Homo sapiens: one gene and its partners. The protein of the gene in region 1 interacts with the protein of each later gene in a biochemical or structural test. Each region holds a gene or a part of one and is shown on either strand. Other genes may lie near its edges.

Evidence for each region. The genes of interacting proteins can lie anywhere in the genome.
Region 2: the proteins of SOS1 (region 1) and ITSN1 form a complex in vitro, tested with the Homo sapiens proteins (2 studies listed by BioGRID, with this or other methods).
Region 3: the proteins of SOS1 (region 1) and PLCG1 form a complex in vitro, tested with the Homo sapiens proteins (2 studies listed by BioGRID and IntAct, with this or other methods).

The regions. Positions count from the first base shown.
Region 1 is NC_000002.12:38,984,972-38,992,073, forward strand, and holds part of SOS1 (son of sevenless homolog 1), read right to left. Parts: intron 4,344-7,102; coding exon 4,299-4,343; intron 2,621-4,298; coding exon 2,502-2,620; intron 1,345-2,501; coding exon 853-1,344; 3' UTR 393-852; coding exon of another isoform or gene 339-392; 3' UTR 1-338.
Region 2 is NC_000021.9:33,883,501-33,890,500, forward strand, and holds part of ITSN1 (intersectin-1), read left to right. Parts: intron 1-49; coding exon 50-171; intron 172-1,540; coding exon 1,541-1,623; intron 1,624-1,938; coding exon 1,939-2,022; intron 2,023-2,786; coding exon 2,787-2,960; intron 2,961-4,651; coding exon 4,652-4,800; 3' UTR 4,801-7,000. UniProt on the Homo sapiens protein: Adapter protein that provides a link between the endocytic membrane traffic and the actin assembly machinery. Acts as a guanine nucleotide exchange factor (GEF) for CDC42, and thereby stimulates actin nucleation mediated by WASL and the ARP2/3 complex.
Region 3 is NC_000020.11:41,168,543-41,175,542, forward strand, and holds part of PLCG1 (1-phosphatidylinositol 4,5-bisphosphate phosphodiesterase gamma-1), read left to right. Parts: intron 1-224; coding exon 225-328; intron 329-480; exon of another isoform or gene 481-536; coding exon 537-633; intron 634-914; coding exon 915-984; intron 985-1,569; coding exon 1,570-1,727; intron 1,728-3,650; coding exon 3,651-3,747; intron 3,748-3,878; coding exon 3,879-4,103; intron 4,104-4,186; coding exon 4,187-4,335; intron 4,336-4,877; coding exon 4,878-4,992; coding exon of another isoform or gene 4,993-5,109; coding exon 5,110-5,271; intron 5,272-5,380; coding exon 5,381-5,469; intron 5,470-5,581; coding exon 5,582-5,769; intron 5,770-5,924; coding exon 5,925-5,967; 3' UTR 5,968-7,000. UniProt on the Homo sapiens protein: Mediates the production of the second messenger molecules diacylglycerol (DAG) and inositol 1,4,5-trisphosphate (IP3). Plays an important role in the regulation of intracellular signaling cascades.

The DNA.
Region 1 (7,102 bases):
GTAAACTTCTGTGGGAGAAGGAGGGAAAATGACAATCTAGCATAGATGAACAGTCTCCTAAATGCAAATAGAATAGTTGACAGTTATTTTTTTTTAAAAAGTTCTTCTGTCATGTTAATGACACAAAACTTCTCTTTTTTGAAGGCAACACCACCACATTTTGTTTGGGTGTGTGGGGACAGGTGGGGGGAATGCTCTTAAAATTGGTACAATTATTCCTAAAACAACAACAACAACAAAAAAGTACCTCTTTGGTGAAGCCTCGGTACCCATTCAGTTCACCGTAATAATCTGTAAACAGGCCTGTAGTACAGTGCCGGGCCTTGATTTCAACAAGGTCAGGTACCACAGCCTTTCCTCACAGTCCTTTGAGTGATTTTTAAGAAAATATTCTAAAGTAGAAGAGTAAAGCAAAGGAAAACAAAGGAAGATATTAAGATCCCTGTTTAAGTTTTTTTTTTTAAAAGTGCATAATTTGAATTACAAAAACTGTCATGTGGGCCTGCTGGACACTAGACTGTGTTTTCCATCCCTTTAATGATCACTTCACAAAAGATCACTTCACAAAAAGAGGACTCCTGCCTATTGGCCAGAAAAAGTCCCTTTATGATTTTCAGGTGCAATCAGTTGTCCAATTCCTCTAGGTCGGTCTTTCCATATTCTAAACTGGAATACCATTTCCATTGTATAATTACATCTAGGTTAAAATTCATTGTCTTATACTGCATCTTGAAGAAGAGTCGTTAGTGTTTGGAGTTCTCATTTTAACTCCTCAGTGCTGGCACATTCAGTGCATCCATTGCCAGCAATGGATTTGGGGCTAGGAAAATATACATCCCAGTACAGAGGAACTCAGGAAGAATGGGCATTCTCCAACAGTGGTGGTCCATCTCTGTGCATGGATGGGTGTGTGTGCTCCCTTTTGTAAGTTTTTGGAGGGAGTTTAGGGATATGTTGAGAAGTGCTTTGTCGTGGAGGAACAGGCGGCCCAGCAATGGAATGAAGGTCCACTTCTTGTGTCAATGGTGGTGATGGCAGATGCCTTCTTGTGCCGTGAGGAGAAGGTGTTTGAGGAGGAGGTGGTGTAAAGGGGGAAGGGCTGTTTGGGAAGAAGGCATTGCCATGGTCACTTTTTTTGCCCAAAGGGGGAGGTTGGAGATGTAGTGGTGAGCTTGAGAAAACATCAGGTGTCCTCACAGGTTCTCGTGGTGGTAATAAGGGAGGGCTTTCAGGAGGGTCTGAGATAGAGGTCCGGTCTGATATTGAATATCGTGGTGAATAGGCTTTTGATGTGGGTTGCCTAGGAGGAATGGCTGGGGGACTGTCCAAATGCTTAGACATAATCTAACAAATGAAAAGAATAAAATACACATTTATTAATAAATTTATGAAGTATCATGACTATAAGAATTAAGTTGGGGTTTTCAAACATGCTATTGGCAGGATGCTAAGTGTGGAACAGGGAGTTTTGCCATATGTTTTCTTTTTAATTAAAAAAAAATTTTTTTTTTTGAGACAATGCCTTGCTCTATTGCCCAGACTGGAGTGCAGTGGTGCAATCATGGCTCACTGTAGCCTCAACTTCCTGGGCTCAAGTGATCCCCCGACCTCAGCATCCCAAGCAGCAAGGACCACTGGCATGTACCACCATGCCTGGCTAATTTTTTTCATTTTTTGTAGAGTCAAGGTCTTGCTCTGTTGCCAAGGCTGGCATATGTTTTAAATGGGAGGTTCTGTCAATTCATAGAAAAAAAAAGTTTGCCGTAGTTTTTACTTAAATTTTTTTCCTCAAAATTTTGTTTGCTACTGCTTGCTTAGCTTATCACTCAATCTAAGATCATTTCTAATTTAGCATAAAGTACCTATTTTATAATTTTAAGTTAACTATGTTAACATTCATGAAGTTCTACAAAGAGTGTCTTGTCTTGACTTATCCTGGTGCTCTGCACTCTGGACAGCTTAAGAACTAATGAATTAAGTTTAACAGCTGGCCAAAAAGAAAAAAACAAAATTAAATAAGTAGAAATAATAGCTATTTTGAGCCTTTGGGGTCTCTTCCAAACCCAGAATTTTCATGAAAACTCCATTTAAAAGTATGTCAGATTTACTATTAAGGGCTCAGATAAGTAAATTTTAGCATATGTCAAAATACAGTTTGACTTATAATGTGCCTTCATACAAAGCTTCAGGACTTTCTCTGTATGCTTTTAAAGAACTGCTTGAAACCAAATTCCTCTTACTTTACAGATTAAAACTTTTGTTTTTTTCTGAAAATAACCATAGCCTTAGGTTTACAAGGGTCTTGAATGCATACCAAAAAACTACCTTCAGAAGAAAGAAACATTACTGCATGCTAAATCTATATGTAATCCTTGTTTAAACTATTAAGCCTGTATACTCTGAAATGTTAACTTATCCTAGTGAGAACTAAACTAGACAGCCGTTTATTATAATGAACTGTAATGATTCCAATTTCTACACAACAAGATTTCTTACTTTACCTTAGATGGTGAAGATTCTGCTGGGGCAGATTCTGGTCGTCTTCGTGGAGGAACAGGAGGAGGGACAGGCACTTCATCAGTGCCTTTGGTTAAACTTATAGATGATACAGAAGCAGATCCTGTGGGATGTTAAATTTTTAAGAAAAAGTCCACAGGAATTTTATTTCATTTATTTACCTTGAAAAGTCTTAGCTGGAAATTGCTTATAATTAAAAGTAATGTGTAGAAATACCAAAAGCTGTTCAATAAACCAATACCGAATAGTATTTCATTAAAGCAAACTGCCATAAAAGCATGCAGACATTTTTTAGCAGAATATTTAGAAAAAAGCTGCCTAAGGTATTCTGTTATTTTGCCTGAACAAAATAACATTCCCATGGTTACTCTATTATTGAAATTTTTAATTGAGTCTGATTCTCAGATGTCTGGGAGACAGTGAGCTACTGAAAATCTTTGGAATGGTAATTTTTAGATTCTATAATGGGTTCATTTTTTTCTTTGACTTTATTAGAATTTATAGAACTTCCCCACCTTACTGGATAGTCCCTGGGAGTAGAGTGTGTGCTCTTAACCACTCTCTCCAATGTCTCTCCCTAGCATTTCTCTCAAAGGATGCAAGGGAAAGAATCATAGTGTCTAGGTGAGGGGCCTCTCCTCATTTTGTTTAGTTATAGGCTCCCCTTTGCCTGTAAGCAAAAAGAGGCTCATTATACTCTAAATCCAAAAATTTTAACGGTGATGGCACTATTCAAGACAACGGAGGCAGCCCTGACCATGAAAACAGAAATTACACTAAAATCTAGTGAATCTGATTTAAGAATAAGTTGGTGGACTGGCACAAAAAAAGTAAGTAAAGCTACTAATTAGAACCTCTCTTACAGACATTTATGGTAACAAGAACATAAGGTAGGCATATAAATACACTTTGGAAAACAACACTTAAGTTAGTTGTTTATACCTACTATAAAAAAAGATGTGAAAAAAATACTTAAACCATCATTCAAAATTATAGTTGGCAGTTTTTTTTCCCTTTAAGCATTAAGCTTTTTATTTTGTCACATGTTATAAAATATAGAACTTAAAAAGAGTACTTTGTGTACTGATATTATTTAAATGATCAACATTTTGATCACCTACCTTTTTTCTTAAGAATATAGTTAATTCAGCTTGTAACTAGTATTTTCCATTGTACATATTTTGAAATTGTATGAAAGGACAGCAAAAAAATATTAGCTTAAATAATTAAAATAATGGAATTTAGTGACTTGTTAGTTTACCTTACAATTAAAATGGAACTTTATTTTGTTTATCAGTATTTAGGCTATACTTTGAATAATTACAATTATAAGAAAGTTCTTCTAAAGTCAAAAGCAGTTGTCTATAATCTATCCTGCCATCAGGCTAAGTATATTTTGTGATTTAGAAACTGCATGTAGCTGCCAGCATTCCCATATGCGCATGCATGCTCTTGCCTTTTTTTTTTTTTCAAAGTTGAGCATTAAAATATACTTAGAACTCTATAGTTGGAAAAAAGAAATGGTTAAATGTGGAAGCCACTTATTTAATATGTTCTTTTAAGAGAGAAACAAGGTTTTATAAAAAGCATGAGAAATATATAAATTTAAGCAAATCACTTATGATCTAAAGATAGCACAAGTGAAGGCCTCACTTCTAGGATGTTGCAAGCAAGGTACCAATGCTGCCAGACCCAAGAAGAGTTTTAGCAGGAAAGGTTACACTTGGTTTGATTTTTAAAGCCAAAGCAAGAATTATGAGTCTTAAACCAAATATACTAACTTGGGCCATGGGGCAGAGTAACTTGGATAAAGACGGTATCATTGCCTGTGAAAGGAAACAAGAAAAAGTAGATTTTTTTCTTTCATTGATATATTCAACTCATCTGCAAAAATTTGTATTATGATGAAAATGTTATTGTCATTGTCGTTTTAAAGAATGCTGTAACAGTTTATAGTAAAACCTCATTACTACTTACTTTTGAGAAGAAAAAAATGATATCATATTGGGAATTTAAGATTCCTTTTAGCTTTACTTGATTTCATAATTATTAAATGAAAAACATTCATAAAAAAATCGTATATTACTGAAAGACTTTTTAAAATGTAGAAACCCAATTCAAGCAAAAAGTTCAGCTGGATGTATATAAATATGCCATTTAGTAAATATTATTTTGAAAACTCAAACTTGTGAAACAAGTAATAAGTTTATTTTATGTAAGTTGAAAAATAAAAAAGTTACTAATTATATGTCTTTCAAAAATGTTCTTGGGGCATATATTCTCATCACAAAATAACTAGCACTTTGGATATAAAACAAGCTTGAAATTGATACAGGGTTTTTCCTTTTATAGTCATAAACATTTTTTTTAAAGTCATTAAACATTTGGTGCCTAGACTCATTTTACATAGGAAATTCTGATAAATTTAAATTTAGAAAGTCTAATTTCAACAATATTAATTATTTTAAGGAAAAAACTGAAAATCAAAAGCGAAAGCCCCAAGAGCATTAAAGTAGGAAAATTGAGACAAAAAGCTAGGTGATCTATACTGATTCTAAATCAATATAGTTGTTTGTTTGTACAGTGTCTCATATTAACAACAGATGGAACAGATAACGTTATAACATCCAAGAGACTAAAATAATACTAGACTGTGGTAATTTTTTTTAAATTCAGATTTCGTTTTTTTTTTTTTGCACAATAGGCAATCCCTCACATAATTTGGAATATTAAGTTTATTCAAGCATATTTGGTCAGAAGGAGGGTGATCTCACATTCCAGATTTCTAGGCAGCCCTAATTTCAAATAATCTGTCCCATTATCTGATTTCCGTATGTACTGATATTTATTTGGAACCTATGATTCCTAAGTGTAGCAATCCAGCTAATTCTAATATTACCTTTCAGAAGATTAAAATTCATTTTTCTACTCTGAAATTACATGAAGCTGTTGCTCTGCCGATGATTTTCTTCCCTATTAGCCACCTATAATTGAAGATTGCCTGGTTGTAAAAGGGAGCCAGAGATCTGACGTAATAGAGATTAAAGGAGTATCTAGCTCTAGCGTTTACCCTACTTATATATGTCCCACTTTTCCTGGAAAAGAAATAAACATATCTCCTGGAGATATGCCTCAAGAACATGATAGTACACTTAATACAATACAGGAATAGGAGTAAAATCAAAACACAAGCTCATGACTGTTACAACTATAGTCTTTAATTGTACATATGCATGCACACTTGTGTACACAGATGTAAACTTGGCTTTGAGTATATTTATATATAGCACAGGCTTAGACTCATGCATTTGGTAAATTTGGGGCACTAGTTGTCTTATTGCCTGGAAAATACTATAGAAATTCTTTTAGAATTTTACATGCACTAATCAAGAAATATATGCTAGAAATTCTTGTCAGTTAGATACTGAGTAAATTTACTGATAATGACTTAGAAGTGAAATCTAATTAATTTAAAAAACAGTATTAATTTATTAAGCATAATCCCAGATGACAGACAAATGGTCCTCAATCTTGGCTGTACATTAGAATCCTATGGGAAGTTTTTAAAAAATACTGATACCAGGTACCAATGCCAGTCTAGTGTGGGCTGGGCCTACATATTTTTTTTAAGCTCCTCAACAGATGATACTATACAGTCAGGGTTGAAACCACTCTTAAAGATACTCCCCAGTTTATAAAGGAGTCATTCTTGATAGAAACAAGCATTTTTCTATAGAAAAAAAAAAAAAGATATGATAGATAACTTCTTAAACTCACAAAAGCCTGGTAAATGCAAATATATTTGGGATTAGAAACTCATCACCTACAGCAATCTTCCAGGAGGAAAAGCCTTGCGTTATCAGCTTGACATACTTGTAATACATTCTTTTTGTTGTTAAAGAGTCCCCTAAGGGATGGAAATGGAGAAGTCAGACCTCTGACTCCCTTTTATGACCAGGCAATCTTCAAACAGGAAGGTAAAAAGAGCATTTCATCATTTTCTCCTCTCTATTATAGCAGCAGAAACAAGTAGTGAGCCAGTGGTCTTTTCTCTTTTCTCAGCAACTGTCGTCATCACCTCAAAGGTGGACCTGGCCAGGGCAAGGTGTGGAGCAGGGCTTTGAATGTATGTGTGGCAGCACTAAGTACGTGGCCACTTCTCTGCCCTGTCTTTGCCACAACGCTTTCCATGACCACTCTTGCTCATTCTGAGGTCATCTTTCTATAAGCTTCTCCAGTATTTATGTCTTTACCACTATTTTTAGCGTTTAACTGTGAATCTCTTTGCACTATGATTATTTTTAATCTCTCAGTAAGACTGCAAGCTTTCCCAGTGAAGACGTGTAAGTGTTTAGCAAGGAATAAGATATGCAGCAGATACTGGCTGAAATAATTAATTATAGGTTTTTAAAAGTAGATTATTTTGGGAAAAAACCGTAAGAGTAAAAAAAGAATAGTATAGTATTATAACTGATAAAAAAAAATTCTAGTCAAACTCTGCCTTTTGAAAAACTTAAACAATGGAACTTTGTACTGCTTTGAGTGGAATATGTTGGGATGACATATGACTGCAGTCAAGGCAGTT
Region 2 (7,000 bases), on another chromosome or scaffold:
CACACAGACCCCCAGCCTCGCTTTGTAATGCCTGTGTGTTACTTTCCAGCCTATTTTCCTAAATGAGGTTCTAGTAAAATTACCCACCGACCCTTCTGGAGACGAGCCCATCTTCCACATCTCCCACATTGACCGCGTCTATACTCTCCGAGCAGAAAGCATAAATGAAAGGTGAGACCTGCCGCCTCCCCAGCATGGGCCCCAGGGCTCCACGGCTCTAGGACACACAAGGGGCGGGTGATTAATCAGGTGCCAATGTTTCCCAAGTGGCAATGCCATCACCCCTAGCTGGGAGTGGGGATGGGGCTATTACTTTTTTCTACAGCCTCTCAAAAATCTGTCACATGGCATGCCCTTTCCAAAATAACATGGATTCAAACTAATTTTGCTTGAGTTTTTTTTTTTTTTTTTTTTTTTAAGGCAGAGTCTCACTCTGTCACCCAGGCTGGAGTGCAGTAGTGCAGTCACAGCTCACTGCAGCCTTAACCTCCTGGGCTCAGGTAATCCTCCCACCCTAGCCTCCCAGGTATGTGGGACTACAGGCATGTGCTACCAAGCCTGGCTAATTCTTTATATTTTTTTGTAGAGATGGGTTCTTGCCATGTTGCCCAGGCTGGTCTTAAACTCCTGGGCTCAAGGGATCCACCCGCCTTGGCCTCCCAGAATGCCAGAATTCTGGGATTACAGGGGTGAGCCACTGCACCTGGCATTGTTGTTGTTGTTGTTGTTGTTTTATTAAGAAATGTTTCGCATTCTTTGAGGTAAACAGAGCATCTCAGGTTTCCCCTGGCTTCCCAGGTGGCAGAAACCAATAGGAAAGTAATTTCGGGGTTAATAGGACCACGCAAACCCAAACCTCTCCTCACCTTGGCTGACTTAAATGGGCATTCTGGAACCTAGGGCTGTGGGTATTTTGCTTCAATCTGTCTTCAAGACACTGCCCTGGAGCCAAATGAAATAGATCATTTTCTGAAGGGTGAACTTGACACAAGGCCAGCATCATTCCAAAGAGCATTTGCACCAAGCAAGAAAATTGGCTAAAGCTTTTGTGCATATGGTTCTCAGAAAAAATGAAGGAGAAAACCGCGGCCACAAATGCCTTCCCCCAAGGCGTTTTGGTCTTTCGTGTGAAGTGGTTCCCAATCTGGGAAGTGGTTTTTGTTCTTTCTTTGCGTGATTTCATAAGCGAGATCCTTCTGGCTTTGTTGGATTAGGCAAATATGTGCTGCTCTTCGGTAAGGAAGGAAGAGGAGTCGTGTCCCGATGTTGCCTCCAAGACAGCATCTATCACAGATTTTCTTCCCCGGGGACATCATCGCAGGTCTTGAGGACATCCATGGAAATGGCCCTCATGCCTTTCTTATCGATGGCAGGAATAAGTATTAGCGTCACGTGACATAAAATCAGATTTTCTTTCCCGAGCCTTTGTTGTTAAAATCAAATGAACAAAGAAACAGAGTCCTGGCAACAGTGTTTGAACAGACCTGAAGCCTTTTTCCTGAGTTTCTGTTTGGCAACTTTCTGTCTTTTTCTGTCCAAGGACTGCCTGGGTGCAGAAAATCAAAGCTGCTTCTGAACTCTACATAGAGACTGAGAAAAAGAAGCGCGAGAAAGCGTACCTGGGTAATGCATGGCCCCGCGGGGTGTCCTGCACAGCTGGGCAGGAGGGAGGGCCATTTGGCTGGGCTGAAAATCCTCAGAATAGAAGAATCCCCTGGACCTAGAGGAGGGGCATGGAATGAGATGGAAGTGAGCTTGGGGTGGGATGCAGATGGGGATGGAGGGCAAATTCCAGGAGCAAGGAAGCAAGTGTTTAAGGAGAGGGAAGAATTACTTTTGAGTCGGGAGAGGTACATGAAATGCATTGTGAGGCTCACAGAGATGGGAAAGGTGTGGCACGTTCAAATGAAGCATTTTGTGTTTTTCCTGCCGTCATAGTCCGTTCCCAAAGGGCAACAGGCATTGGAAGGTTGATGGTGAACGTGGTTGAAGGCATCGAGTTGAAACCCTGTCGGTCACATGGTAAGGCTGTGAGGCGCCCCCGGCTCCTGCTTTGGGGTTGGGAGTAGGGTCCGGGTTCCCCACACCCCCACCTGGCTCTAGATCAAATGTGCTATTTCCATACTCCCTGATCTCCTTCCAGAATTGGTTTAACTAGCACTTGTTAAAAACCTGGAGGTTTTGTGTTTTTTTTTCCATCCTTTCTACCATTCTGCTTCTCCGAGGGATCTGAGTGGCTGCATTCACAGTGGATGTGACACAAGATCAGGCCAAAGTAACGAGACAGGAAGGGCCTAGTTTCAAAGCCCACTCAATTAAGTATTTGTTTTTAGTTTAAGGATGAAGCTGACTTCTGGGAGTTTCCACCCGGATTCTCCACCGAATGACACTTATTAAGCATAGCAGTTATTAAGAGTGGGGAGCGGCCGGGCATGGTGGCTCACACCTGTAATCCCAGTGCTTTGGGAGGCCAAAGCAGGTGGATCACCTGAGGTCAGGAGTTTGAGACCAGCCTGGCCAACATGGTGAAAGCCCGTCTTTACTAAAAATATAAAAAATTAGCCAGGCATGGGGGCAGCCACCTGTAATACCAGCTATTCATTCAGGAGACTGAGGCAGGAGAATCACTTGAGCTCAGGAGGTGGAGGTTGCAATGAGCTGAGATCATACCACTGCACTGCAGCCTGGGCGACAGAGCAAGAATCCATCTAAAAAAAAAAAAAAAAAAGAGTGGAGATCAAAATGAGGTGTGAGTTCCACCTGGCGAAGGCTTTTGTTCCCTCCAGGAAAGAGCAACCCGTACTGTGAGGTGACCATGGGTTCCCAGTGCCACATCACCAAGACGATCCAGGACACTCTGAACCCCAAGTGGAATTCCAACTGCCAGTTCTTCATCCGAGACCTGGAGCAGGAAGTCCTCTGCATCACTGTGTTCGAGAGGGACCAGTTCTCACCAGATGGTGAGTGGAACGCGGCCCTGTGGTTATTCCTCCTTCCCTGGCACTCGTTTGCGTGGGTTAATGTTTTCTTACCTGGGGACTTGGTGCCAGGATTCCTTCGGTTTCCCTCCTGAGAGATGAGGCTGGCTGGCACAAGACGAGGCTCTGTCTCCCCTGGAGGAGTCTTCTGGAGGCGTCTCATTGCATGTGGACAGAGCATGCTTGGTCTAGAATTGTGCCAGCTGCCCTGGGCAAACACGTCCATCTTCTGCTTTCCAAAGCAGGTGACTGTGGAGAGGGGTGTGTTTAAGAGCCTCAGCATAGTTCTTCAGTCCTTGGCAAAAAGCTGTGCTGGCAATGGATGAAACTGGCCAATGGAACAAGGATGTTAGCCCACAACAGGAGCCGCAGAATGGGCCAGGTCCCTTTGGGTGGCATTTTTGTACCACTTATTAAGTAGGCAAAGGGATGCAGTCATGTTGAATGAATCATTTCTTCAGCCAGCCTTCTGTTTCTGCTTGGGCCTGGAAAAGAATAGTCTCAGCCCAATGATTCCAAGAAACTACCTGTCTCTCCCTCAACCCAATAAAAATCACCGGTGGGCATGGTGCTGCAGGCCTGGAATCCCAACACTTTGGGAGGCTGAGGCAGGAGGATCGCTTAAGCCCAGGAGTCTAAGACCAGCCTGGGCAACATAGTGGGACCTTGTCTCTACAAAAAAATACAAAACTTAGCCAGGCATGGTGGCATGCACCTGTAGTTCCAGCTACTCGGGAGGCTGAGGCAGGAGGATTGCTTGAGCCTGGGAGGTCGAGGCTGCAGTGAGCCATGATGGTACCACTATATTCCAGCCTGGGCAACAGAGCAAGATCCTGTCTCCAAAAAAAAAAAAATCACAGAGTAAGTTAAAAGATTATGGTCTCAACTTAATTATAACCGAAGAAGTGAGGGTCAAATGCTAGCATTATCTGTACAAGGTTTAAATGGCTCCATATGGCCTTCATCTTTTAGTACTTTTTATATGAATTATCTCATTGTGAGTTAGGTACTCGTTGTGGTAGCTGGTTAAATGTTTGAGTGTGACTGGAACAGTTTGGCTCCCAAGTCTGGGCTCTTAACTACTATGTGTACTGTCAACTTCTAATTCTTTTTTCTTTTTATTTTTTTTATTTATTTATCTTTTTTCTTGTTGTTCTCGCTCTGTCACTCAGGCTGGAGCACAGTGGTGCAATCACAGCTCACTGCAGCCTCCACCTCCCAGGCTCAAGCAATCCTCCTGCCTCAGCCTCCTAAGTAGCAGGGATGACAGGCATGAACCACCATGCTAGGCTAATTTTTAAAAATTTTTTGTAGAGACAGGGTCTCACTCTATTGCCCAGGCTGGTGTCAAACTCCTGGACTCAAGTGATCCTCCTGCCTCGGCCTCCCAAAGTGCTGGGATTACAGACGCGAGCCACTGTGCCCGGCCACCTTCTAATTCTGAGAGATAAAGGTTGGGGTTGGGTTTTTTTTTTTATTTAAGTAATGAAATACCATGACACATTGGCAACTCCGCTGGGGAGCGAGTTGGAAATCCTAGTGTTGGTTTACATCAGAGCCCAGAGAAGAAGGGAGAGCATAACAGTTCATCAGGGGGTCCCCAATATGCCAGACATGTGCCTCGAAGAGAGGGAATGGTCCCTCTTAGGAGGGTCTGTTTGTTCTCTTTTCAGATTTTTTGGGTCGGACGGAGATCCGTGTGGCGGACATCAAGAAAGACCAGGGCTCCAAAGGTCCAGTTACGAAGTGTCTTCTGCTGCACGAAGTCCCCACGGGAGAGATTGTGGTCCGCTTGGACCTGCAGTTGTTTGATGAGCCGTAGGCAGCGGGCTCAGGGTGTGCTCAGCAGGGTCCCAGCCCACGGCCACACATGCTGTCTGGAAATTGTATTCCTTTTCTAAGAAACCACCATTTGGTATTCAGTCACAGGGATATGGGATGGCAAAGACAGGCCCCTCAAAGCTCCTAGGAATCATTCTCGACAATCCTCCCTGCCCCGAAACAATTTCCTGTTTCATGAAACAAAGCTGTGTTTTCCTTTGTCCTCACTACAGGTCTCATTATGGCTTCTAGGGTCGCTGAAATCCCATAGCCCTCAACAGGGTGCAGCTGGGAGTCTAGCCCCTTCCCGGGCTTGAGGGATGGGTCTGGTTACTATAAAATAGATTTATAAATGCAATGTCTATATTTTTGGAGAACTCATGTAACCCTCCTGTTTCTTACATCCACCAGTCCCCAAGTAGACTTCTTGGCCTACAATGCCCAGTCCTTGGTGTGAGTTTAGAAACAATTATGACGGTCCTGTCATTGCTTCAGAATCCCATCTCTCCTGCAGGGAAATGCTGCCTAGAGCTGATCACTCGGTGAGACGGTCTGATCAGGCCCTGGCTTAGCTCTTTGAAGAGCTGGTCTATGGAAGTTTCCAGCATGTGCACCGTTATAGCCGTTCCTTCCCCCTCTAGGCCTTGTATTAATATATGTCAATGAAAACACACTGGTGTATTGTTGCGTGGATTCAGTTCTGATTCCCAGCATGCTTAGAATATGGTCACAGAAAGTCATTATCTAGAAAGTCACCCCTCTGCTGGATCAGATCACTACAGGTCACTGGAAAGGCAACTTTACAATGTTGGGTCACTGGGTCTCGGTTGGCAGCCATGTTGGAAAAATCTCTTTTGGCTCGGAGGCCTGTGATATTTCATAGCAGCAGTCGTTGCTGGTGACCTGTTCTGTGCTTGAATGTGCTGAATCCTGATTGTTGTAGGACATTTCAACAGCTCTTTTTGGTACGTTCCCCAAAAAGCCATGTCCTAGATCCCCAAGGCGTGAAAAGGAAAAATATCAAGCTGGAGGTTGGGAAAGAAAATGAAGGCAGTCCATTATGTGGTGGGTGAAAGACCCTAGGAGGATGCAAGCCCCGCACATCCCGGGGCAAAGACCTAAGACACTTTTCCACCCTCCACCACCCCAACCTCACATAATATGCTTGTTGCAAGAGTCAGGACTTTATGACTATGTGCCAAGCTGTTTGGTTTGAGTTCTTTAATTTTTTTTTCCCTTAAATGCCAGGAGATCATCTGGTTAGTTAGATAGTAACTTGATTTGCTAATGAAAAGTGGGGGCCGTGTTTTGTTTGCATGTTAATATTCTCATAATCCTAGTTTGTTGTGGTCATGAAATGTCCTTTGCATGTTCTGTTGGTACTGGAGTCTAGCTTTCCTGTACTAGATGGTGTTCTCTTTGATTGTAGGTCCTTAGACTTTAATTAGGGTTATCAAAGTGCTTTCTAAATGATAGCATCAGCGTTGTGGCAGAGTACCTCCTTTGCTGGGAACTGAATGTGTAGTGTTATCATTTCCCATGAGAGCCCGGTCATACTTCAAGCAATTTTTTTAAAAGTGTGTGTTGGAAAGGACAACAAAGTTTACATTTCATACTTTTAAGAAATACTTTATTATTTATTTATTGAAGATAGTGTAGAATTTTGTATCAAGAACAACAGACATAAGTATTTTTTGAAACAAGCAAATATACCCTGTAGTTAGAAACTTTCAACTGAACATGTTAGAGACCAAGTTTAACTTCAGGCATGCATTTGTTTACCATTTCCCAGCAGAAAACATGGTTAAAATACTTTAAGTTTATATTTTTTGATGTTGTTAAGAAACTTTTAAATTAAATCTATAAATAGACATGCAACTCATGCTTTCCTATTTCTATAACCAACACCGTTTGTTTAGTGTATTTATGAAAGATATGCTACCATGGTAGAAAGAAAAGTATTCAATGTGTAAATGGGGTAGTGTGGGTCACCATTCCGATCTCTTTTTGTTTTCTGTCCTGTCTTTTCTTCATTGACTTTATTTGCGTGTTAATGTTGGACATCATTGTTCATGTAGGTAGCGTATGGTATGCACAATGACAAACAATCGTTTTAGGTCCCAGGTCACCCACTCATAGTGTCCTATTATTGGAATTAATGTAGCATGAGAAAGCAATATGTGACTCTTTTTCCTCAAGTG
Region 3 (7,000 bases), on another chromosome or scaffold:
TTTCACTGGCAGAGGCCCTGCCTCTCTGATCATATCTGTCCTGGAGCTTCCCTGCAGGGCAGTAACAAGAACTATAACTAGGGCCTGTTGATGGCAGTGTCATCTCCCACTGGCCTGACCCCAGGCAGGGAAGCCCAAGCACATGTGTGTGTGCACATGAAGCCCCAGGTTGGCAGTGGCAGGGAGAGCCTTTCTGCTCTGACTGGTGCTTCTCACCTCTGCAGTGTGCAGTCAAAGCCCTCTTTGACTACAAGGCCCAGAGGGAGGACGAGCTGACCTTCATCAAGAGCGCCATCATCCAGAATGTGGAGAAGCAAGAGGGAGGCTGGTAAGCCAGTGGTGTGGTAGGCCCAGAGTCCAAGGGCCCCAGTGGAGCTGGGGCCCCAAAGACATGCATTTGTGATGTGCTTGTCTCCTGTGTGCACCAGCAGTGCCTGCCTCACCCTGGCTTAGGCATGGGAACCCCTACCAAAGGATACCCTCCTCATGGGAGTTCGGGGTGGTTGCTGGAGGTCAGCACCCTGTGGCTCCCACAGGTGGCGAGGGGACTACGGAGGGAAGAAGCAGCTGTGGTTCCCATCAAACTACGTGGAAGAGATGGTCAACCCCGTGGCCCTGGAGCCGGAGAGGGAGGTAAGACCAGAACCACCTGAGTAACAGCATTCCCTATTCCCAGATTCTCCTTGGCATGCCCCCATCACACAGTCCCAAGCACGCACGTGCATGCACAGACACCTGTCACATGGGCTGGTCGCACAGCCCATGTGGCCATGCACGTAGTCTCCCATATACCTGTGCTACATTTGGCAGTCACAGGTACACCCACAAGATGTATTTGTCCCATGCACACGGATATCCCCTCACACACATATGCAGTAGCCATGCTGACCATTGGTGGGCTTTGCTTCCCACAGCACTTGGACGAGAACAGCCCCCTAGGGGACTTGCTGCGGGGGGTCTTGGATGTGCCGGCTTGTCAGATTGGTGAGCTCCCATCTGTTTCTCTTGCCCACTGTTCCCTAGGGTGAGATTCTTCTTTGTATCTCTTTCCTGCTCCTAGGGAGGAAGCTGATGGCTGAACCCCAAAGTCTGCCCTCACTCCAAGCTCTCCCCATGCTCTGGACATCCCCTTGACACCCTGGGCTCCCTTTGTCACTGTCAGCTTTGACCCCTGCATGTTTACCTATGCCAGGCACTGGGGAACCCGTCAGAATCAGCAGAACAAAGTTGATGCTGCTGGTTGGCTGACATCCCCAGGCCTAATGGGTTGTACCACAGGGATGTGACAGAGGCTTGGAGATGGGGTGGAGAGGGAGACACGGCCTGAGGAAGAAGCATGAGTCAGAGCTGAGTTGGAACACTGGCTCCACCACAACCAGCAGTGACTTGTTTGAGTTGTAGCGTCGTCATCTGTCAAATGGGCCAGCAGAGTAGTCCTTCCCCTCATGGGGTGTGGGAAGGAGGAAATGGGATGAGATAGAACTCATTTGAGCCAGTGCCTGCGGTGTGGAGTGGGGTGGAGGGGGTGAGATGTCTATTCCCAGCTGTTATCTGCTCTCGCCCTCCCAGCCATCCGTCCTGAGGGCAAGAACAACCGGCTCTTCGTCTTCTCCATCAGCATGGCGTCGGTGGCCCACTGGTCCCTGGATGTTGCTGCCGACTCACAGGAGGAGCTGCAGGACTGGGTGAAAAAGATCCGTGAAGTGGCCCAGACAGCAGACGCCAGGGTGAGATTCTGCTGGAACCTTCTGGGGGGCAGTGTGTGGGCCCGTCAGGCAGCTGAGGCCTCCAGCTCCCAGCACAGGCCCCCTCAGAGCAGTGGGGCAGCCGATGGCCTATGCTAGATAGGCCACAGCCCCTGCCTTAGCTAGGGATTGAGAAGAAACAGACACATAAGATGCAATGTGGTGTGTTTAGGTTGTGTTGAGTTTGAGATACTGATGGGTCGTTGAAGTGGGTCTGCTTAGTGGGCAATTGGATACACAAGACCAGAGGTAAGAGGAGAAGTCCTGGGCTGGAAGCAGGAGTGGAGTGGGGGCTGAGGCATAGAAGGGATGAGGTGGTGTCGCATAGGAAGAGAACTTGGGATGGATTGAGAAGCTCCATATGAGAAGGCATGGGCGAGGAAAGGAGCCCAGGAAAGGCAGGTCAGACAGACTGCAGGCCACTGGTGAGGGAGAGGGTCTGCTGTGTTGAGAGCTACAGAGGTAAAGACAGGAACGATAAGAACTTGCAAGTGCCCTTTGGATTCAGCAGCAGCTAATAGCCCTTGTGAGACTTTTGAGCTGCATCAGCAGCATGGCTGGCATTAGATGGCAGTGGGCAGCAGGGAGTCTGGAATGGCAAAAGCAGAGCCTTTGTAGGGCCTGTCCTTGAGGGAGAGAACAGGTGACTGGGGTTTGAGCAGGCTCTCATGCAGATGGCTGAAAGGAGCGAGCAGCGTGTGGGAGGAGATGGAGCCCAAGCTTAGCTGGTAGGACCAGCCTTCTGGAGAAGGTGGCCTCTTCCCCTGAGCCTGGGGGAACAGAGAAGTATTCTCAAGGGTTAGGGAATTCCTACTTGGTGGCCCTTTCACCAAGTGCATTTGGTAGATGGGTCTGTAGCTGCTTTGGAGAGGGCACCCGCAAGCCAAATAGAGAAGGGATAGGGTGCTTGCCAGGCTGTCCCCTAGAAGGAAAAGGTGCTGGCATACCAGGTGGTTGAAGGACTGGATCTGGGGGTCTAGGCTGAAAAGGGAAGAGTCTGAATGTAAGAGCCACTGAGGCCGGGCGTGGTGGCTCACGCCTGTAATCCCAGCACTTTGGGAGGCCGAGATGGGCAGATCACTTGAGGTCAGGACTTCGAGACCAGCCTGGCCAATATGGTGAAACCCTGTCTCTACTGAAAATACAAAAATTAGCCGGGCATGTTGGCCGGCACCTGTAATCCCAGCTACTCGGGAGGCTGAGGCAGGAGAATCGCTTGAACCCGTGAGGTGGAGATTGCAGTGAGCCGAGATCACGCCACTGAACTCCAGCCTGGGCGACAGAGCAAGACTCTGTCTCAAAAAAAAAAAAAAAAAAAAAAAGCCACTGAAAGAAAGTCCTCCAGGAGAGGATGGGTTGGGGTGCTTGTAAGTGGGCTTCTGTAGAGATTTGGCATGGAGATTTGCCATGAAGAGTGGGTGGTTATATTTGAGTTGGGGGCGCTGAGGCAGTGAGGATCATCCTTAGGACACAGATGGAAACCAAGCCAGGGGCCTGTATCCCCAGTGCAGTCACAGGTAACACAGAAGAATCATTTTTACCCCAGCATGAGGCTGGGTAATAAATGGTCAGAAAGTGTCATTTGGGAGTGTGGCCAATTCCAGGATCCCTGGAAGGTCACTGGGAACATGGGTGGTGATGAGGAGTCTGTATCCCCCACCCCCCCTAAGAGGGTTGGAGGGCAAATGTGTCCTCTGGGACAGAAAAGAGGAAAGATGATTTCAGGATGAGGCTGAGGACAGAGCTCCCTCATTTACTGTTGGGTGTGGTGTCTGGAAGGTACAGGGGAAGGTGGGAGAGGGGCCCAGAGCACCTGCAGTGTGGGCATGCCCAAGGTTGGCAGGGGCTTCCTTCTCCTGGGCAGGGCTGTAGCCTGGGGCTACAGGGCCTTGTGTGTGTCACCAGCTCACTGAAGGGAAGATAATGGAACGGAGGAAGAAGATTGCCCTGGAGCTCTCTGAACTTGTCGTCTACTGCCGGCCTGTTCCCTTTGATGAAGAGAGTAAGGGCCAGGGCCCAGGCGGGGTGTGCATGTGCCTGGAGGGCCTGGTGGGTGCAAAAAGAGTATTTAGGTATCCCCCCAACACTTCCTGGGTGGGCGGGCTCTGTAAGTGTTTTCCCTGTTTGGCCCAGAGATTGGCACAGAACGTGCTTGCTACCGGGACATGTCATCCTTCCCGGAAACCAAGGCTGAGAAATACGTGAACAAGGCCAAAGGCAAGAAGTTCCTTCAGTACAATCGACTGCAGCTCTCCCGCATCTACCCCAAGGGCCAGCGACTGGATTCCTCCAACTACGATCCTTTGCCCATGTGGATCTGTGGCAGTCAGCTTGTGGCCCTCAACTTCCAGACCCCTGGTGAGGAAGTCCCCTGTGAGGAGGGTGAGGAGGGGCACTGTGGGGCAGCTGGACTGGAATACACCATAATCTGCCTCTTCCAGACAAGCCTATGCAGATGAACCAGGCCCTCTTCATGACGGGCAGGCACTGTGGCTACGTGCTGCAGCCAAGCACCATGCGGGATGAGGCCTTCGACCCCTTTGACAAGAGCAGCCTCCGCGGGCTGGAGCCATGTGCCATCTCTATTGAGGTGGGTGCTGCTCATCTGGGCTTCAGGGTAGGAAAGGGGCTGCTTGCCGTTGGAGTCTGTTTATGTTGAGTTCTCCAAAAGTAGGTATTTTCAGGCATCAAGGTGGTCAGGGTGGGTGGGGCCTGAGCTGAGTCTTTGAAGGGGTGAAGATAGCATGCAGTCACTGTATGCATCTAGGACGTGCAGAGCCATGGTGTGACTTGTTCTGATGACTTGTTTTGTTCTGATGAGATCTTTTTTTTCCCTAAGGGGAGGTCATTTAAAAGATTTCTGTGTTAAAATAGTAATGGATTTAACATGAAGTAGATTGCAAAACTCACATGGAAATTTTGGCTAAAGCTCAGACTTCAGATAAACTACAGGCAGCAGCTGCTCTGGACAGCTTAGGGTCCCTGATGTCGTGAGGGACTCCATGGGCAGTGTCCCGGGGGCCCAGCAGAGGGCGCGCTGCCTCCACTCCACAGATGCTGACTGAGCCTCCGCAGTGGGGAATTGGAGGGAGCAGGAAGGACAATCCCAGGCCCTTCTTTGTCTGCCTACAGGTGCTGGGGGCCCGACATCTGCCAAAGAATGGCCGAGGCATTGTGTGTCCTTTTGTGGAGATTGAGGTGGCTGGAGCTGAGTATGACAGCACCAAGCAGAAGACAGAGTTTGTGGGTCAGTCTGTCTTCCCAGTCATCCTCCTCATCCTGCTGGGGCACTGCAAGCCTCTCCCCACCAGTCATCCCATCCTCTCCCACGGTGACCTGAAGCCTTTTGTCGTTGCCTTCACAGTGGACAATGGACTCAACCCTGTATGGCCAGCCAAGCCCTTCCACTTCCAGATCAGTAACCCTGAATTTGCCTTTCTGCGCTTCGTGGTGTATGAGGAAGACATGTTTAGTGACCAGAATTTCCTGGCTCAGGCTACTTTCCCAGTAAAAGGCCTGAAGACAGGTGAGGACCATTCCTGGAGGCAGTGCCCCTGCAATCTTGCTGGCAGGGTGGGGCTGGGCCCCTTGCTCTGTCCCTCGTGGGCTGAGGGCCAGGCTTTTCCTCCTCCTAGGATACAGAGCAGTGCCTTTGAAGAACAACTACAGTGAGGACCTGGAGTTGGCCTCCCTGCTGATCAAGATTGACATTTTCCCTGCCAAGGTATCTGCAGCAGGGGTGGGCTGGCCTGGGGTAGGTGGGAGGAGAGCCAGGCAGCAGCCTCTAGAAGTGCAGAGGAGTCATTGACCCTCTTGTGCACCTGGCTTCGTTGAAGCAGGAGAATGGTGACCTCAGTCCCTTCAGTGGTACGTCCCTGCGGGAGCGGGGCTCAGATGCCTCAGGCCAGCTGTTTCATGGCCGAGCCCGGGAAGGCTCCTTTGAATCCCGCTACCAGCAGCCGTTTGAGGACTTCCGCATCTCCCAGGAGCATCTCGCAGACCATTTTGACAGTCGAGAACGAAGGTGAGGAAGATGGAGGGGTGCTAGAGCCAGGAAGGCAGTGGCTAGGTCCTCCTTCTTCAGTGTTTCTTTCTCCTGGGTAGAAAAGTTGTAATATTGTCTGGCATTGGGCTGCAAGGCCCTGCCTGCCAGTAAGGACACTCTTCCCTTCTGTCCAGGGCCCCAAGAAGGACTCGGGTCAATGGAGACAACCGCCTCTAGTTGTACCCCAGCCTCGTTGGAGAGCAGCAGGTGCTGTGCGCCTTGTAGAATGCCGCGAACTGGGTTCTTTGGAAGCAGCCCCCTGTGGCGGCCTTCCGGGTCTCGCAGCCTGAAGCCTGGATTCCAGCAGTGAATGCTAGACAGAAACCAAGCCATTAATGAGATGTTATTACTGTTTTGGGCCTCCATGCCCCAGCTCTGGATGAAGGCAAAAACTGTACTGTGTTTCGCATTAAGCACACACATCTGGCCCTGACTTCTGGAGATGGATCCTTCCATCTTGTGGGGCCAGGACCATGGCCGAAGCCCCTTGGAGAGAGAGGCTGCCTCAGCCAGTGGCACAGGAGACTCCAAGGAGCTACTGACATTCCTAAGAGTGGAGGAGGAGGAGGAGCCTTGCTGGGCCAGGGAAACAAAGTTTACATTGTCCTGTAGCTTTAAAACCACAGCTGGGCAGGGTGAGAAGCTAGATGCCCCTGCAGTTTGGCCCTGGAGCCAGGGCAGAGGAATGTAGGGCCTGCATGGAGAAGGGTTCTGCCCTGCCTGAGGAGGAGGACACAGCACAAGGGCACATTGCCCATGGCTGGGAACATGACCCAGCCTGAAAGATACAGGGGATCATGTTAAAAATAGCAGTATTATTTTTCGTCTCAATGGTATTGTAACTAAGTTATTTACTCCTCCTGCTCCTCACCCCTGTAGGGAAACCTTGGAGAGGAGAGTGGCAGGTGGGCTGCCTGCTGTGTTAAGAGGACTTAGTTTGTGATGTAAGGCACTGTCAGGAATGGGGGGCGGGCCAGGGTGGGAAGAGAAGAAATAGCAGAGCCTATTTTGGTGAGGTTTTTTGTTTTTAAGTCAAAGAAGACTCAGTATGCTTTCCCTGAGGAATGAAAAAGGGATTGAGGAGTTGCCTGACTCCTGGGTGGGTGGGGTACAGGCAGTTAGGTGCTGAATGAAGCTGCCATCCTTGCTGCAGCTTCTAACTGGTAAAAAGATCCAGGGATGGAGATGGGAAGGTTAGAAAGGCAGCCCT